Linked DNA regions of Homo sapiens: region 2 is linked to region 1. A link means that fine-mapping ties the variant in region 1 to the expression of a gene that starts in the linked region. Tissue or cell type: whole blood. Region 1 holds a variant in brackets; the other region holds the start of a gene. All regions are shown on one strand. Distances are from middle to middle.

Evidence for each region. PIP is the estimated chance that this variant, and not a neighbour inherited with it, causes the effect.
Region 2: ZBTB18 starts here. The variant in region 1 is fine-mapped to the expression of ZBTB18 in whole blood (TOPMed, PIP 0.93).

Annotation. Positions count from the first base shown.
Region 1 is chr1:244,251,540-244,259,645 of GRCh38, forward strand. LOC105373262 (a long non-coding RNA gene) reads right to left here. Exons shown (of 3, transcript XR_949343.3): 2 at 2,112-2,174. Among named protein-coding and RNA genes, the nearest start is that of SPMIP3, 97 kb to the right of the region's middle. The variant G/A (reference allele first, on the strand shown) is at 3,653.
Region 2 is chr1:244,047,890-244,055,995 of GRCh38, forward strand. It overlaps ZBTB18 (zinc finger and BTB domain containing 18), which reads left to right and starts at 3,394. Exons shown (of 2, transcript NM_205768.3): 1 at 3,394-3,555; 2 at 5,899-8,106. The coding sequence starts at 3,543. The coding sequence ends at 7,481. It overlaps LOC124904570 (a long non-coding RNA gene), which reads right to left and starts at 352. Exons shown (of 2, transcript XR_007066975.1): 1 at 122-352. RefSeq lists enhancers at 33-192, 2,403-2,452, 4,169-4,670 and silencers at 363-482, 2,633-2,722.

The sequences.
Region 1 (8,106 bases):
GTAATAAATATTTTGGCTTTGCAGGCCATATGATCTCTTGTAAATACTCAATTTTGCTGTTGTAGCAATGTATGAACAAATGGGTATGGCTATGTTCTAATAAAACTTTATTATAGACACTAAATAATAATAATAATAGCTCCTATTGATTAAGTGCTTGCCATGTTCTGAGCAGAGCTAACTGCTTTAACATTTGGTTAAGTGCTGGGCCAAGAGCTCAGAATATGATTAGGAAAATGACACAACCTCTACCTCCTTACTTCCTGTACACTTTCTTGTGTAATCCTCATAACCAACCTATCACTAACCCTATTTTGTAGTTGAGGAGACTAAAGTTATGTAGCCACTCAACATCAGGCATCTAATAAGTGGCAAAAAAAAAAGGATTTGAACTCAGTGTGTCTGATTTTAGAACCTGTTTCCATAACCCCCACACTCTAGGGCTTGGAATTCTATTGACAGCAAAAGCATCTTCCAGTCTCACAGGACTGTGGGGCTGTGGTGCAGTCCTGAAAGGAGCATGCATGTGAGGAACACCACGCGAGAGGCCCATGAAAGGACAGGACAGCCTGGAGTCCCGGGGGAAGCTGCTCCCCAGCACCTGGCATTATGGCCGGTGTCATGGTCCCATGTTGGGTTTGCAAAGGACTCAGAGCCTTGAGCCAAGCGGCAGGAAGCAATTTCAGTCTTTGGCCCAGACCACCAGGCCTCGAAACCTTTCTATCTAATTAAACTTCCATTGCCTTTCATTTCTGCAGCCCTCCTTACAGGAATACTCTCTTTAAAATAAATAAATAAAAGATATGGGAACTGATGGAGTCAACTAAGAATTTCTCTAATTTCCACATCTAACTCCTATGAATAACTCACTTGGAAATGGGCGTGGTCTGTCTAGGCATGATTGTGTTTTGCATAAACTCTTATGCATGAAGTGGCTCTATTTGCAACTAGACAGGATCCAAATTTCAGAAACACTTTAACAACCGACTATAAAGTTTATTAAAAAATAAAAAATAGAAAAGTCATTTCACCTTTTGCCCGCAGTAAAACTCTGGGAATGGACTCTCCTGGCCTCAAAGCTTTCTTTTCTTCTCTGCAGAAGCTGCTGAAGACACCCTCCACAGGCTTAGCCTACCCAGGTTACGGCACCCTGCCTGCTGCACTCAGGGAACTCAAGGTGTTGCCTGTTCAACGTTTGAGCAGAACCAGAGTCATGGCTTACGCTAGCTGTGACTTTGTACCCCAGTTCTGGTCTCTGAGTCCCTGCCTGGGGTATCCATGCAGTACCCAGGCCTGCTGCTTCCTTGTGGGCTAACCTGGGGAGGCTGGCTGCCTGCCACCATCATGCTGCCATGCTCAGAACCTGCTCAGGCTCGTCTCTGGAAAGCTCCTTCACAGCCATTGCCCATCTCCTTTTTTTGTTTGTTTTTTTTCTTGAGACGGAATCTTGCTCTGTCCACCCAGGCTGGAGTGCAATGGCACAATCTTGGCTCACTGCAATCTCCACTTCCCGGATTCAAGCGATTCTCCTGCCTCAGCCTCCTGAGTAGCTGGGATTACAGGCACCTGCCACCACACCCAGCTAATTTTTGTATTTTTTAGTAAAGATGGGGTTTCACGATGTTGGTCAGGCTGGTCTCGAGCTCCTGACCTCAGGTGATCCACCTGCCTCGGCCTCCCAAAGTGCTGGGATTACAGGCGTGAGCCACTGTGCCCTGCTCCCTTTCTCCTTTTACTCAGCTTGTCCCAAACTTCAAGGTACAGAAGAATCACCTGGGGATCTTGTTAAACTGTGGGGTCTGGCTTGGTAGGCCTGGGATGGGGGCTTGAGAATCAGTGTTTCTAACAAAGCACCAGGGTAGGTTTGGGAAATAGTTCGAGTCTATGCAGCGTCAAGGATGATGGCCAAGCAGGTGAGGTAGCCACTGGCCACTACTATTTTTGCCTGCCCAGAACATGTGCTTTTTCCCTATTTTTTTAAGCCCAATAATGGGCACATAGCTCAGTTTGCACCAATCAGAGTCCTGCCCAGAAATGAGGTATGAATGGTGGTGGGAGTGGGGAAGAAGGGGTAAGTGGGAGCAGGCTCTCTTTTCCCTGGGGTTACTAACCTGGGAGGGTTGCTTGTAGCGCATGCAGGAAGTCCATTGTCAGTGATCAAGAATGAGTTGAACCTACAGAGAGAAGTGAAAAGGGTGGAGATGCAAGGACATCATTTGAGCTCCTGCATCCAGTCACACCTGAGGCCAGATGCTCCAGCCTTCCAGTTATACGAGCCCATAAATTTGCTTTTTCACTTAATTTAATTCTTGTCACTTGTAAATAAAAGAGCCCTGAGTTATATAGTGGGTAAGGCAAGTTGGGGTCAAAAAACAAGGTATAGAGTGATAATGGTTCACATGATGATTCTAAAAGTAATTCCTGGCCGGGTGCAGTGGCTCACGCCTGTAATCCCAGCACTTTGGGAGGCCGAGGTGGGCGGATCACTTAAAGTCAGGAGTTGGAGACCAGCCTGGGCGACATGGTAAAACCCTGTCTCTACTAAAAATACAAAAAAATTAGCCAGGCGTGTTGGCGGGCACCTGTAGTCACAGCTACTCAGGAGGCTGAGGCAGGAGAATGGCGTGAGCCCGGGAGGCAGAGCTTGCAGTAAGCCAAGATCATGCCACTGCACTCCAGCCTGGGGGACAGAGCAAGACTCCATCTCAAAACAAACAAAAAAGAACATGATTAAGTATGGAGTCCTAAGGGCCTGACCTCCAAGTGCCACAAAAAGCGAACTTGAGCTCCTTCATCAGGCGATGTTTGCTCATGCCTTTTCCTGATGATACTGAAAAAGTTCGCAGAAGCTCCACATGTCCAACTGCTTTTTCCTGGACGTTTAGTTATACAGGTAAAGCTGAAAGTAAACAGCAGATTTGGACTCAAAATCAGCTCCATAAATGGCCTCATTTCCAGGCACAGCCCTTGATGTCATCTCTGAAAGGTCGTCGTCCCAGCCCTGGAGGGATTTACTGAGGCCCCAGGATCTGAGCTCATGTCCAGATCTGTGAAAAGCAAAGGACATGCATGCAAAATAGATTGAGGCCGCATACGCCCAAGTCGCTGGGGAAGGGACAGGCATGTGGTGAGCAAAGAGGGAAGAGGAGGTTTCCTGCTTCTCTCTGTGACTTCCCTATTTCAGATAACAGCAGCCCCACCCTGCTGGGCACTCAGGTTCAAAATGTCAGAGCCTTGGGACTCTTCTTTCTCCTTTTCATATTCCTCTGCGCTGCATGCAGGAGAGTGATTCTATCCCAGGGCCAACTCTGACAGCCACCTCCTTCTCTCCATTCTCTCTGTTGCTGCTTTTTTCAGGCCTTCATTATTTCCCACCCGAACCACAGTGGCAATGGCCTTGTAGCTATTCTCCTCAAATATATTTTTCATACTTCACCAGGTCCAGTGAAATGTTTTGAGGACTTACTATTGACTCACTCAACCCTGGGGCAGATTGTATTTTCCAAAGATGCCACATATCCCATTTTACATGTTCTCACAATATGACTGACATTCTTGCCATCAAGAGGTGAAGTCCACGTTCCCTCCCCTTGAACTTGGAAGGGCTTGAGACCCAGCAGAAGTGATGCTATGTGACTTCTTCCAAGACTAG[G/A]ACCTAAAAAGTGGTACTGTTTTTGCCTGGTTTTCTTGGGAAACTTGCCTTCAGGCCATCAGTTGCCATGTAAGTACGAAACCGCCATACTGTATGGAAGCCCAAGCCACATGGAGGTGCCATGTGTGGGTGTTCCTAGTGTGAGGTCCTAACTGACAGCTGGGAATGTGCATGAACGTATCTCTAAATGATTTCTTCCCCCAGTGGGCTGGTCACCGCCACCCGCCCTCCGCCCCCTGTCACTTTTCAGTTCTCCCAGTCGAGGCCATAGACATCATGGAGCTGTGCTTTCCTGACCTACAGAATCTGTCAGCATAATAAAATGGTTGTTTCTGTTTTCTCTGGGTGCAGTGACTCACACCCATAATTTCAGCACTTTAGGAGGCCAAGGCAGGAGGATCGCTTGGACTCAGGAGTTTGAGACCAGCCTGGGCAACATAGTGAGATCCCTGTCTCTGTAAAAAAGCCAAAAAAAAAAAAAATTAGCTGGGCATGGTGGTGCATGCTTGTAGTTCTAGCTACTCAGGAGGCTGAGGTAGGAGAATTGCTTGGGTCCAGGAGGTTGAGGCTACCACGAGCCAGTGAGCCACAATCACAACACTGCACTCCAGCCTCGGCAACAGACTGAGATCCTGTTTCTTAAAAAAAAAAAAAAAAAAAAAAAAAAAAGAAGATTATTTTAAGTTCCTAATTTTGGGGGAAATTTGTTACATAGCCAATAGCCAATAGATAACCGATATTTTATTTTAAAATGCCTTAATGTGTACACAAACCCTCTGTCAATCATCTGGTTACAAATAGCTCCTGCAGGGAGCTATTTACAAAAGAGGTGAGGTTTCCACAGCTATGAGACCCTGAAGAGAGGAGCTGATCCGAGGGTAAGCCAGGCATTTCTATGCATTTTTTTTGTCTTTACTATGTGCCAGGCACGTTACAGACCTTATCACATCCAAATCTTCAACATGATGGCTATGAGGTTAATTATCTTCCTTAATAGTTATAGAAATTGAAGCTCAGAGGGGAAACATAAATTTCCCCAAAGTGGCCAAACAGGAATCCAAACCTGGGGCCTGATGACGCCGGAGCCCTCGCAGCGCCTACCGCGCCTCTGGAAGAGCCGAACCCAAGAAAGAGAGCACAGAGGAGCACTCAGCATCACTTTGCTGCTCTTACCTTTCCCAGCACATGACTGAAATCACTCCTCTATTTGGAATGAAGGAAAAACAAAGCAGTCTGGTCTGGCTAGAGAAAGCCCCCGGCCACAATGTCGAACAAACCGGGAGTAATTTGTCTCTGTTCTTTTCCATGTGACTGCCGGAGGTTATCCTGGTTTTTATTAGTCCAAACTTCCCTTTTCAAAAAATAATTCCTTGAAATCTTCTGGGAAATTAACATGGCTCAATCTGGCTCTGGGCTGGCCACCACATGCTCACAGAATTAGGAGAACCTGAGATTTTAACCCTTCGTAGCCACACACACATACACACAAAACCACATGTGCCTCTATAGCTGTGTTGTTTAACAGGCTGTAAAGAGAATATTCACACTGGGTGAGCGGTTAGGTTCAGCTTTATCCTGGAAAAAATTTCATCTCTTAGATTTGTTCCAATCCAAGAGTTTTACACGGTGTGCAGATTGAGTTACACATCAGTGCACAGCACAGGAATCCTTTATTTAAGAAATATCAGGAACTAATTAATATACAAGGTTAGGTAATTTAAATAACAATTATTTTCAAATATTTTTTAAAGAAAATATATTAAGAATAAGTAATATAAAATTACAGAGCCGGGCAGGAGGGTTCACCTGGTGTAATCCCAGGGCTTTGGGAGGCTGAGGTGGGAGGATTACTTAAGACCAGGAGTTTCTGACCAGCTTGGGAAACATAGTAAGACCCAGTCTCCAAAATAATAAAATAAAATAACTACAATAGCAACTTTAAATTCCAATTCTATTCTGTACTATAGTCAATTACATAAAAAATGTTCTTCATTTTTCTCTTATAATTTTTTTTTTGAGATAAGGTCTCATTCTGTCACCCAGCCTAGAGTACAGTGGCACAGTCATAGCTCACTGCAACCTCAAACTCCTAGACTCAAGCAATCCTCCTGCTTCAGTCCCAGGTAGCTAGAATTACAGGTGTGCATCACCATGTCCAGCTAATTTTTAAATTTTTTGTAGAGATGGGGTCTCACTATGTTGCCCAGACTTGTCTTGAACTCCTGGCCTCAAGCAAACCTCCTGCCTCGCCCTCCCAAAGCGCTGGTATTACAGATGTGAGTCACTGTACCTGGCCCATTTTTCTTTACTTTTATTTTCTATCTAATTGGGAACTTTTGAGATTATTTACAGTGTCATAAGAATTATAAAAAGGTGGCCAGTTGCAGTGGCTCACGCCTGTAATCCCAGCACTTTGGGAGGCTGAGGTGGGCAGAACCCCTGAGCCAAGGAGTTCAAGGCCAGCCTTGGCAACCTGGCAAAACTCTGTTTCTACTAAAAGTACAAAACTTAGCCAGGTGTGGTGGTGCATGCCTGTACTCCCAGCTACTTAGGAGGCTGAGGCAGGAGAATCACTTGAACCTAGGAGGCAGAGGTTGCAGTGAGCCAAGATCGCACAACTGCATTCCAACCTGGGCAACAGAGTGAGATCCCGTGTCAAAAAAAAAAAGAATTATTATCGTTACTGGCCAAGTGTGGTGGCTTACACCTGTATTCCTAGCACTTTGGAAGGCTGAGGCGGCCGGATCACGAGGTCAGAAGATTGAGACCATCCTGGCTAACATGGTGAAACCCTGTCTCTACTAAAAATACAAAAACAAAATTAGCCGGGAGTGGTGGCGGGCACCCACAGTCCCAGCTACTTGGGAGGCTGAAGCGGGAGAATGGCGTGAACCCAGGAGGCGGAGCTTGCAGTGAGCCGAGATTGTGCCACTGCACTCCAGCCTGGGCGACAGAGCGAGACTCCATCTCAAAAAAAAAAAAAAAAAAGGTAACAAAATTTAGGCAGCTAATTTCTTGTTCTTTCAGTATTTCCACATATGTTTCTGGCAATTAAAACATCTTTTTCTGCCAGGGTCAGTGGCTCACATCTGTAATCCCAGCATTTTGGGAGGCTGAGGCAAGAGGGTCACTTTAGCCCAGGAGTTCAACACTAGCCTGGGCAATATAGGGAGATTCCATCTCTACAAAAATAAAAATAAATTAGCAGGGCATGGTGGCACATGCCTGTAGTTCCAGCTACTCAGGAGGCTGGGGCAGGAGGATCATTTGAGCCCAGGAGTTCAGGGGTGCAGTGAGCCCGTGATTGCACCACTGCACTCCAGCCTCTGTGTCAGAGCAAGACCTTGTCTCAAAAAAGAAAAAAAAAATTGTTTTTCTCTGGGAAGTTTGGTGGAGTGGAACAGGGGAGAGAACAAGCCCCCTATCCCTCCACGTCCTCTCCTCCAGCATCGTTCTTACAATGAAGGATGGTCTTTGCAGCTGATATCTTCTTATACTCCCCTGTTCCTTTCCTGGGCAGATGTCCTGGCGATACGGCCAAGGACATCCCTCTGGGAGCTGAGAGTGGAAGTGGGAGCCCTTTATTTTTGCCCAGCGCCGGCATCAAGGCTGTCCTCAGAACTACCTGAAACATAACAGTGCACAATTCACTGGAGGAGGAAGAGTGTGGAGAGCCTCAAAAAGAAGACAGGATCCTGGGGAAGCCAGTGCAGGGACGTCACGCTCTGTCTCACACGCCTTGACTGCAAAGACATAGCACTGATAGGTAAGAAACAAATCAAAAGCAAAATAACTGGGCTCAACATAATTACCTCTGTTATCAAAACAAAAAGTGGTGAAACTAGCATCCTATAGGAAGGGACAGCCTAAAATTTGCATCCTGCAGAGCAGGGGAATTACTAGTGCTCCATATGACAGGGGAAGTGGAATAATTTTCATTGCAGGCAGGGACTCGGATGGGTGATGAAAGAAATCGAAAAAGTAAGCTGCTGACACAATAGCATCTGGGGCTTCAGCTTTGTACGCTGTGGAAAGGAAGCGTTTGTGACAAAGAACCTAAATCAAATGTCGTGTCTGTGGATATGATAGCCCTAATGTTGCTAGGGTAGGTATGTTGGCTAATTTCATGTGTCAACTTGACTGGGCTAAGGGATGCCCAGGTAGCCGGTAACCCATCATTTCAAGGTCTGTCTGTGAGGGTATTTCTGGAAGAGATTAGCACAGGAGTCAGTAGACTGAGTGAGAAGATCTCCCTTACCCATGGGGTGGGCACCATCCCATCCAGTGAAGGCCCAAATAGAACAAAAAGGCAGACGAAGGTGATGGATTGGCTCACACTCTTTGAGCTGGGTCATCCGTTTTCTCTTGCTCTCAAACATCAGAGGTCCTGGTTCTCAAGCCTTTGCACTTTGCACTGAAAGAAAATGACACCACCAGCTTTCCTGGTTCTCCAG
Region 2 (8,106 bases), 200 kb before region 1:
CCCTGCGCACGGGCCGGCGAGGACCCGGGCGTCTTCACCCCCACAGGAAGGAGCAGAGAGAGCCACCCGAAGTCGGCCTCGAGTCATCCGTGTCCCCGGGTGCCCTGCCTCTCCAGGATACCTGCGTAACTCGCAGCAGCCAAGCCCCACTACGTTCAAAAGTGTGTTTGTGGTTGTCACAGTGCACACCGAAAAGCTCGCTCCGCACCCGCAGAGTGCGCGGGGCCTCTGAGCCTGGAAACAAGCCCCTCCCAGCGCAGCTGTCGCCGCCGCCTGCGGGCTCCTTTCACTTTCTCACGGCCAAGTCACCCAGAGGGGCGCCGCTGCTGCCACCGCCGCTGCGCCCGAGGACTCCGCCCCGCGCCGCTTCGCTCCGGATCCCCGCCCGCCCGAGCCCCGCCCACCCCAACAGTTGCTGCCTGCGATTGGAACGCGCGGGAGGGCAGCTACGGCTCGCCACCCCCATTGGCTGGGCCCCCTTGTCAGTCCGACGACTGCCCACCACCCCCTCCGCCTTCCCGAAGAGCCGCCTTCCCATTGGAGGAGTCTGAGGGCTGGGGGCGGGCGGGGAGCGCCGGTCCAGCCGCTTTCGGTCAATCGCAGAAGCCCAACGCCCGGAGGGAGGGAGGCAGGGGAAGGAGAGGGGCGGACTGAGGGTGGGGGGAACATCTGGCCGGCGCCGCCGCGTGCGTGCGTGGTGCGTCCTCCCGCCCCCTCCCCTCCCCCTCCCCCGCGCCCGCCCCCCCCCCGCCCCCGCCCCCCCACCCGGCCCGGCGGCTCCGCGCTCGCTCCCTCGCTCGCTCCCTCGCTGTGTCTGGCAGGCTGCGGCCGCCGCTGGGCTGCTGCCATGGGGAGCCGTTGAGAGTGGGGCCCTCTTCGCTCCGCCGCGCTCCTCCGGCTGCCAGCGGGGGTGGGCGGGAGGGAGGGGCGGGGGGGAGCGGGCGACGGAGCCGGGATTGGGGGGTGGGGGGGCCGGGAGGGAGGGGGGCAAGAGCCGGAGGAAGCCCACCAAGTCCGGCGGCGGCGGCGGCGGCCGGGAGGAGGAGGAGGAGGAGGCGGAGGACGCGGCGGCGGCGGGGACGCGGTGACTTAGGGCCGCTCCGTGTGAGTCCCGGCGCCGGCCCCTGGCCCCTGACCTGGCGCCCCCTCCGCGCCCCGGCACCCCGGCGGGCGGGGGGCGCCAGCTGTGCGGCCCCGGCCGGCTGGGCGGCGCGGGCGGAGGGCGGGCCGGGTCGGGGGCGCCCCCGCGAGTGGAGTTAGTTTGTGTGGTTGGAGCTGTTGGGGCGGCGGGGGGCGGCGCAGCTGCGGGAGGCCCGGGCGCGGGGACGGGGCCGCTGCAGCTGCGGGGTCGGGCGGGGTGCGGGTTCCCGGCTCCGCGCCGCGCCCCCGCGGGCCGGTGCAGCTGCGGCGCGGGGCGGGCTCCCGGCCGGTGCAGCTGCGGTGGCGCCTCTCGGGTGCGGAGGGCGGCGGGCTGGGGGAGGGGGCTTGGGAGCAGCCGCAGCTGCAGTGGCGCCCGGGACGGCCGCGGCTCCGGGGACCGGTGCAGCTGCAGTGGCGCCCGGGGGAGGGGGCCGGCGGGGGAGGGGGCCCTCCCGGGCTGGTGCAGTTGCCCGGAGGCCCCGGGGGCTCGCGCGTCGCGGCATCGGGGAAGCGGTAGCAACCACTCTCCTCCCGCTGGCTGCTTCTTACGACTTTTCTTTTGTTGTTGCCGTGACCCGGGTCTGTTTTCTCCTCTGTTGTTTAAGGTGTTTTCCTGCTGCACCGGCTCTGCGCCCTCCACCTCCTTCCCTGTGGTTTTAACCTTCCTCTTTCCCCGTGTGTTTTATGCACGGCGAACTACGTAAAGATTTGCATTGCTTCCCCACTCGGCACCCCCGCCCCCACCTCTCTGAAAAACAAAACCCCAACCTCACAAAACCTCTATGGATCCGCGGTAGCGAGACGTGAAGGGGTTGATTTGTGGAGTGGGAGTTGCTGGCCCATTGCGGTGCCCGGGACTCATTAAACTGTCACTCACCCCCCACCCCACTGGGTAAATGGGGTGATTAATGTCTGATATATTGGAATGGGTCGAGGGCATTTGTGGAGAATAGGTGGTGTGGCTGGGAAGAAATTGATCTCCCGAGGATGTCTCCTGGACTAAGTGTTCATAATTATGTCACTCACCGCGAAGTTGGAGAAAGTTAGGTTTGTGACTTTGGGAAAGCGAGAAGGACAGGACGGAGTCGTCGGGTTTTGTTACTCTTTAACTCTCCGCCACGGCTTTCTAATGGGAACGAAGTGGTTATCACCAGGGCTGGGACGCTGGCGCCTCAGGCCCCAGTTCCTTTTCTACCCCTCGCCCTCCCAAGAGTCTGAGGAGATGTATTTGACATTCAGAGATGTCGCAGCACCCTGCCCGGTACCGGTCAGCCCAGCCCGGGTCGCGTTACAGTTTCATCAGCTATTAGAAAAGACCCACAAACTGGCTGAAAAGTTCTCAAACTTACTAGACCTGGCTTCCCCCCACACAAAGATTTTCTTGTGATCATAAACATTAGAGTGACCCCCCCCCAAAGAAAAAAAAGATTGTTAAGGGACACAGATCAAGGGGAAGGCAAGGTTCTGCTTTTTCTGAGCAGAAAGATCAGATATGCAGGTGCAGCATTCATTTTAAGTGACTGGAGCAGGTTGTATCAGTTTATTAATTGGTCTCGTTGAACTGAAGTACTTTCCAGGATTTCAGAAAGTGCAGTTTCAGCTTGTTGGTACCGAGAATTGAAATTTGCATTGACTGTGGCAGTGTAAGAAATTTTTCTGAGAAGGTAGTTGTAGATAAGTAATTACATAAGAGTGAAATAATAAGGTGAACCAGTCTGAAGTAATAGTTCTGAACAAGTCTGCCAACATTTGAGACATGTATACCATTATCTCAGCAGAAAAAAATAAAAAAGTGCGGTAATAATGTTGAAATGGGACTGGAGATGTCAAATGGGTTGGTTTAAAAATATCCCTAAACTGCTTTAGAAACTAAACGTTGGAGTTGAATAAAAGTGAATCTGGATTTCCTGAATAGCACCGTGGCTTGAGTGTGCTGTCAGTATGTAAGCCAGTCCACCAACTTAAGACAGAAGTGTTGCTATTCCATAAATACAGTAGAACTCCATATGCTGAGTTTTTCAATTTCTTCTGTTAGAAAGTTTGGAAAAAAAGGAAGACTTTGAAGTATTTTGTTTATACTAACAGAAGAGAAAAGTTCTCCTAAGAAAAAGCTGGTGGCAGGAGTGTAGAGGAGTAGCATATGGCATTAAAAGGAGCACAGCTGGAGGTAGCATTTCCATCTGAACATGATGTCAGAGCAGCTGACAGCCTGCCATCCCTCAGCCTTTTATTCTAACACACAGACAGGGAGTTAGTGTGTGCGGATCTGTGGTGGAGAAGGTATCTCATTCCTCTCTAACATCATCTCCACTTTGCATCTGTCTCTCTTAGTCTGCTTTTTTTCCACCGATGTAACAGACCTGGAGCCAGCAGGACTCAGAGGAAAGGACTTAATCAGGTTTATGTGTCCTAAAGGTAGGAGTAGCAAGAGATTAGATTGAGCATATTTCTGTTTTGGTGTTTTGTTTATTTAATTTTAAAAATCACATTACTTTTCTAACCCAGTTTAGGAATAATATATGAAATTGAGTATTAAATGAACATCTTACTGGAGTTGAAAGTCTTGAGCTTGTTTAGTTTTAATTTTTTATCCCTTTTACTTGAGCGAGTAAATAACTTTAATACACAAATATTTCAAGTTTTGAAATGTTAAGAAAGGCTTTAAAATGCTGCTTTTGGAAATCACGTTGGATTAAAATGCTTTTTTGTTGTTCACTGCTATTTAGATTTGATTGGGGTGGTGGTGGTGGGGAAATAGTAAACTGGAATCCAGCATTCAAACTTATATGAGAAGATTATTCTAGTTAAGCAGCTAGATTGTTGTATAATTAATTCCTCTGTGAAACTTTATTCTTCAAAACATTGAGCAGCACTACTGAAACATACAGCTGTAGTGCTGTTGAAACTGCAGGTTTTTAAGAAGAAGAAAAAAAAACCAAACTTTTGTCCCCAGGAGAATAGTTTGACTGGTTTCCTCATTTCTCTTTCAAATATATATTTAAGAGATCTTTTATTTCAGCATAACAATAATTATTTGCAGGAGTTTTTGTGTTAGCGACTAATTTAGAACTTGTAGATTTGAGCTGCCTGAATTGGCCAGACAGCTGTAATCGCACTCCTCTATTCTTAATCTCTTTATCTGGGCAGCAGCTGCCATATGGCCACAGTCAGCTGGATCAGATGTTTATAAGCTTCCTTCTTCGTCCCTCTCTGTCCTCTCAGCCTCCTAATTTGATCACGGCTACCTTGTGAGCTGCCCTCCAATCTTTATTTTTAGCCTTCTCAAGGATTAGGATTGATGTTAGCTGTGGGGCACTTAAAGTGATTGTATTGTAAATCTTAGTTTATTCTAGCAGTGGCATCTTGCAGAATGTGTCTGGGGTTAGGATAAAGTTTTAGTCTGTCTTGGGCAAAGTGTAGAAGAACAAGAAGAAAGGAAGTAATTTCTGAATATTAAATTAAGTGTATCTATTCCCAAAATGCACTTGCTGAGATGGGTGGTGTGGAGGCTTGCTTCTGGTCACAGGAAAGGGGAAGTCGGGTCTTCTTTATTTTTCAGGAGTTTACCCACTGCAGTTGAATTCTGACCCTTTGTACATCTTTGCCTTTCTCCTCCCTCCATTTCACTTTCCCTCATCACAAAACAAGGGCAATGATGAATATTTGCAAGAATAGAAGCTAGTGGGAAAACAGAAATATATCAAATTATATTGAAACAAAGTATTTTCTGTTGGCTGAGGTAAGGCAGAACCAGGAAAAAAAAAAAGGTTCTCTTTTTCTAAAAAGGCTTAAAAAAAAACGTTGAACCTGTAAAGCTTTTGAGTTTTATTTAAGCGCTGTATGCCTTTATTTTTAAAAGTTTGAATTAATTTCAATATGAAACTCATTTTGCCTTGCAACGGATCAAAGTTTAGATGAGAATTTTCGGAGTTCAGTAAAGCCCCTCTGGTTCCTAATATTCTGAAAGTACAGTTTCTACAAAGAAATGTAACTACTTTTTTCTCAGTTCGTTTTGAAAAATCTTTGGATTTGTTCATAGTAAAGATGATCTTTTCCATCTGTTGGTGCAGCTCCTTCTGATCTCGTACATGTGTGCTATACCTGCAAATCTGAAGGCATTAACATCTGTTTTTATACACAGGGCTTTTGTTGTAACACCCTGACTTTAAAAGTAAGTTGTTTGCTAATTTCTGGACTAATTATGCAATTTCATTTTTTTTTCTTGATTCAGCCAAATGTGTGTGTGTGTGTTTAAACTGTGCTTTCTAAGCACAGTCAGGTAGCAAAAGTAATAAAAAGGATGGTTGAACAAGTTTTCTTGTATGTTCCAGGATATGTTTGGGACTTTTCTTTGTTTATTATATGAGTTGTTCCCTTTGAAATTAAAGCTATTTTGTAGGTTTTGTGGGACATAATTTGATAAGTAGAGTTAATTAAATTTCTTCTGGAAGAGATCTAAATTCTTATTCTTAGTGAGAGACTGTAGTTAAAGGAAGGCTTTTAGAACTTGGGTTCAAGGAAGATGGAGATGCGTCGGAAGCTCTTTGGCGGGGGTGAGGAAGTTCAGAAAGTGTGCATTTTCCTTCTGGCATTTAGGTCTTGTCCGTGTGATTTGGTGGTGCTTGGGTCATAAGCCTGATTAAAATTCAGGGACATGTACCACGGCGGCCAAAGCGGAATTAATTTTTTTATATGGGGACTGGAGCGCTGAAAAGTTGTTCCTGACCAGGCTCTAATGAGAAATTCCTCTCTCCCCAGGTTATGAAGACAGTATGGAGTTTCCAGACCATAGTAGACATTTGCTACAGTGTCTGAGCGAGCAGAGACACCAGGGTTTTCTTTGTGACTGCACTGTTCTGGTGGGAGATGCCCAGTTCCGAGCGCACCGAGCTGTACTGGCTTCATGCAGCATGTATTTCCACCTCTTTTACAAGGACCAGCTGGACAAAAGAGACATTGTTCATCTGAACAGCGACATTGTTACAGCCCCCGCTTTCGCTCTCCTGCTTGAATTCATGTATGAAGGGAAACTCCAGTTCAAAGACTTGCCCATTGAAGACGTGCTAGCAGCTGCCAGTTATCTCCACATGTATGACATTGTCAAAGTCTGCAAAAAGAAGCTGAAAGAGAAAGCCACCACGGAGGCAGACAGCACCAAAAAGGAAGAAGATGCTTCAAGTTGTTCGGACAAAGTCGAGAGTCTCTCCGATGGCAGCAGCCACATAGCAGGCGATTTGCCCAGTGATGAAGATGAAGGAGAAGATGAAAAATTGAACATCCTGCCCAGCAAAAGGGACTTGGCGGCCGAGCCTGGGAACATGTGGATGCGATTGCCCTCAGACTCAGCAGGCATCCCCCAGGCTGGCGGAGAGGCAGAGCCACACGCCACAGCAGCTGGAAAAACAGTAGCCAGCCCCTGCAGCTCAACAGAGTCTTTGTCCCAGAGGTCTGTCACCTCCGTGAGGGATTCGGCAGATGTTGACTGTGTGCTGGACCTGTCTGTCAAGTCCAGCCTTTCAGGAGTTGAAAATCTGAACAGCTCTTATTTCTCTTCACAGGACGTGCTGAGAAGCAACCTGGTGCAGGTGAAGGTGGAGAAAGAGGCTTCCTGTGATGAGAGTGATGTTGGCACTAATGACTATGACATGGAACATAGCACTGTGAAAGAAAGTGTGAGCACTAATAACAGGGTACAGTATGAGCCGGCCCATCTGGCTCCCCTGAGGGAGGACTCGGTCTTGAGGGAGCTGGACCGGGAGGACAAAGCCAGTGATGATGAGATGATGACCCCAGAGAGCGAGCGTGTCCAGGTGGAGGGAGGCATGGAGAGCAGTCTGCTCCCCTACGTCTCCAACATCCTGAGCCCCGCGGGCCAGATCTTCATGTGCCCCCTGTGCAACAAGGTCTTCCCCAGCCCCCACATCCTGCAGATCCACCTGAGCACGCACTTCCGCGAGCAGGACGGCATCCGCAGCAAGCCCGCCGCCGATGTCAACGTGCCCACGTGCTCGCTGTGTGGGAAGACTTTCTCTTGCATGTACACCCTCAAGCGCCACGAGAGGACTCACTCGGGGGAGAAGCCCTACACATGCACCCAGTGCGGCAAGAGCTTCCAGTACTCGCACAACCTGAGCCGCCATGCCGTGGTGCACACCCGCGAGAAGCCGCACGCCTGCAAGTGGTGCGAGCGCAGGTTCACGCAGTCCGGGGACCTGTACAGACACATTCGCAAGTTCCACTGTGAGTTGGTGAACTCCTTGTCGGTCAAAAGCGAAGCACTGAGCTTGCCTACTGTCAGAGACTGGACCTTAGAAGATAGCTCTCAAGAACTTTGGAAATAATTTTATATATATATAAATAATATATATATATATACATATATATAAATAGATCTCTATATAGTTGTGGTACGGTCTAAAAGCAGTCTTGTTTCCTGGAAATAAAAAGTTGGGATATTAACTTGTTTTTGCACTTTAGAATAGCATGAGAATCTCACTAATTTAGCATTCTGATAAAAGAAACTTTAGAGCAAGTCAGAATAGAGAGGTGTTTTTCCTTTGAGGGGATAGGGGAAGTAAGCCAATAAGAACCTTTTAAACAAATCGTCCTGTCACAAAATGCTTTCATATGGCTTAATTTTGTCAACACTGCATTGTCTTTTGAGCTCTTTTTTCCCCCCCAACAAAGTTTTTTTGTTTTTTGTTTTTTTTTTTAAGTAGAAATTCCCTCCAGTTTTATTAGCCTCTTTATATGTCTCAAATTGCATGAATTTTTTCTGGCTGTTGGAAACCTGAATGCTTTTAGACCCAAATGGAAAATTTCTGAAATGCTGGATTATCTATTTTTAAACAAGCAGTTGACTTAAAACTTTCTGTGGCAACTTCTGGTTTTCTGACAGTTCCCAGTGAGAGAAATGCTGAAAGTACACTGGGATCACTGGGACACTGTCTTATGAAGGTTTGCTTG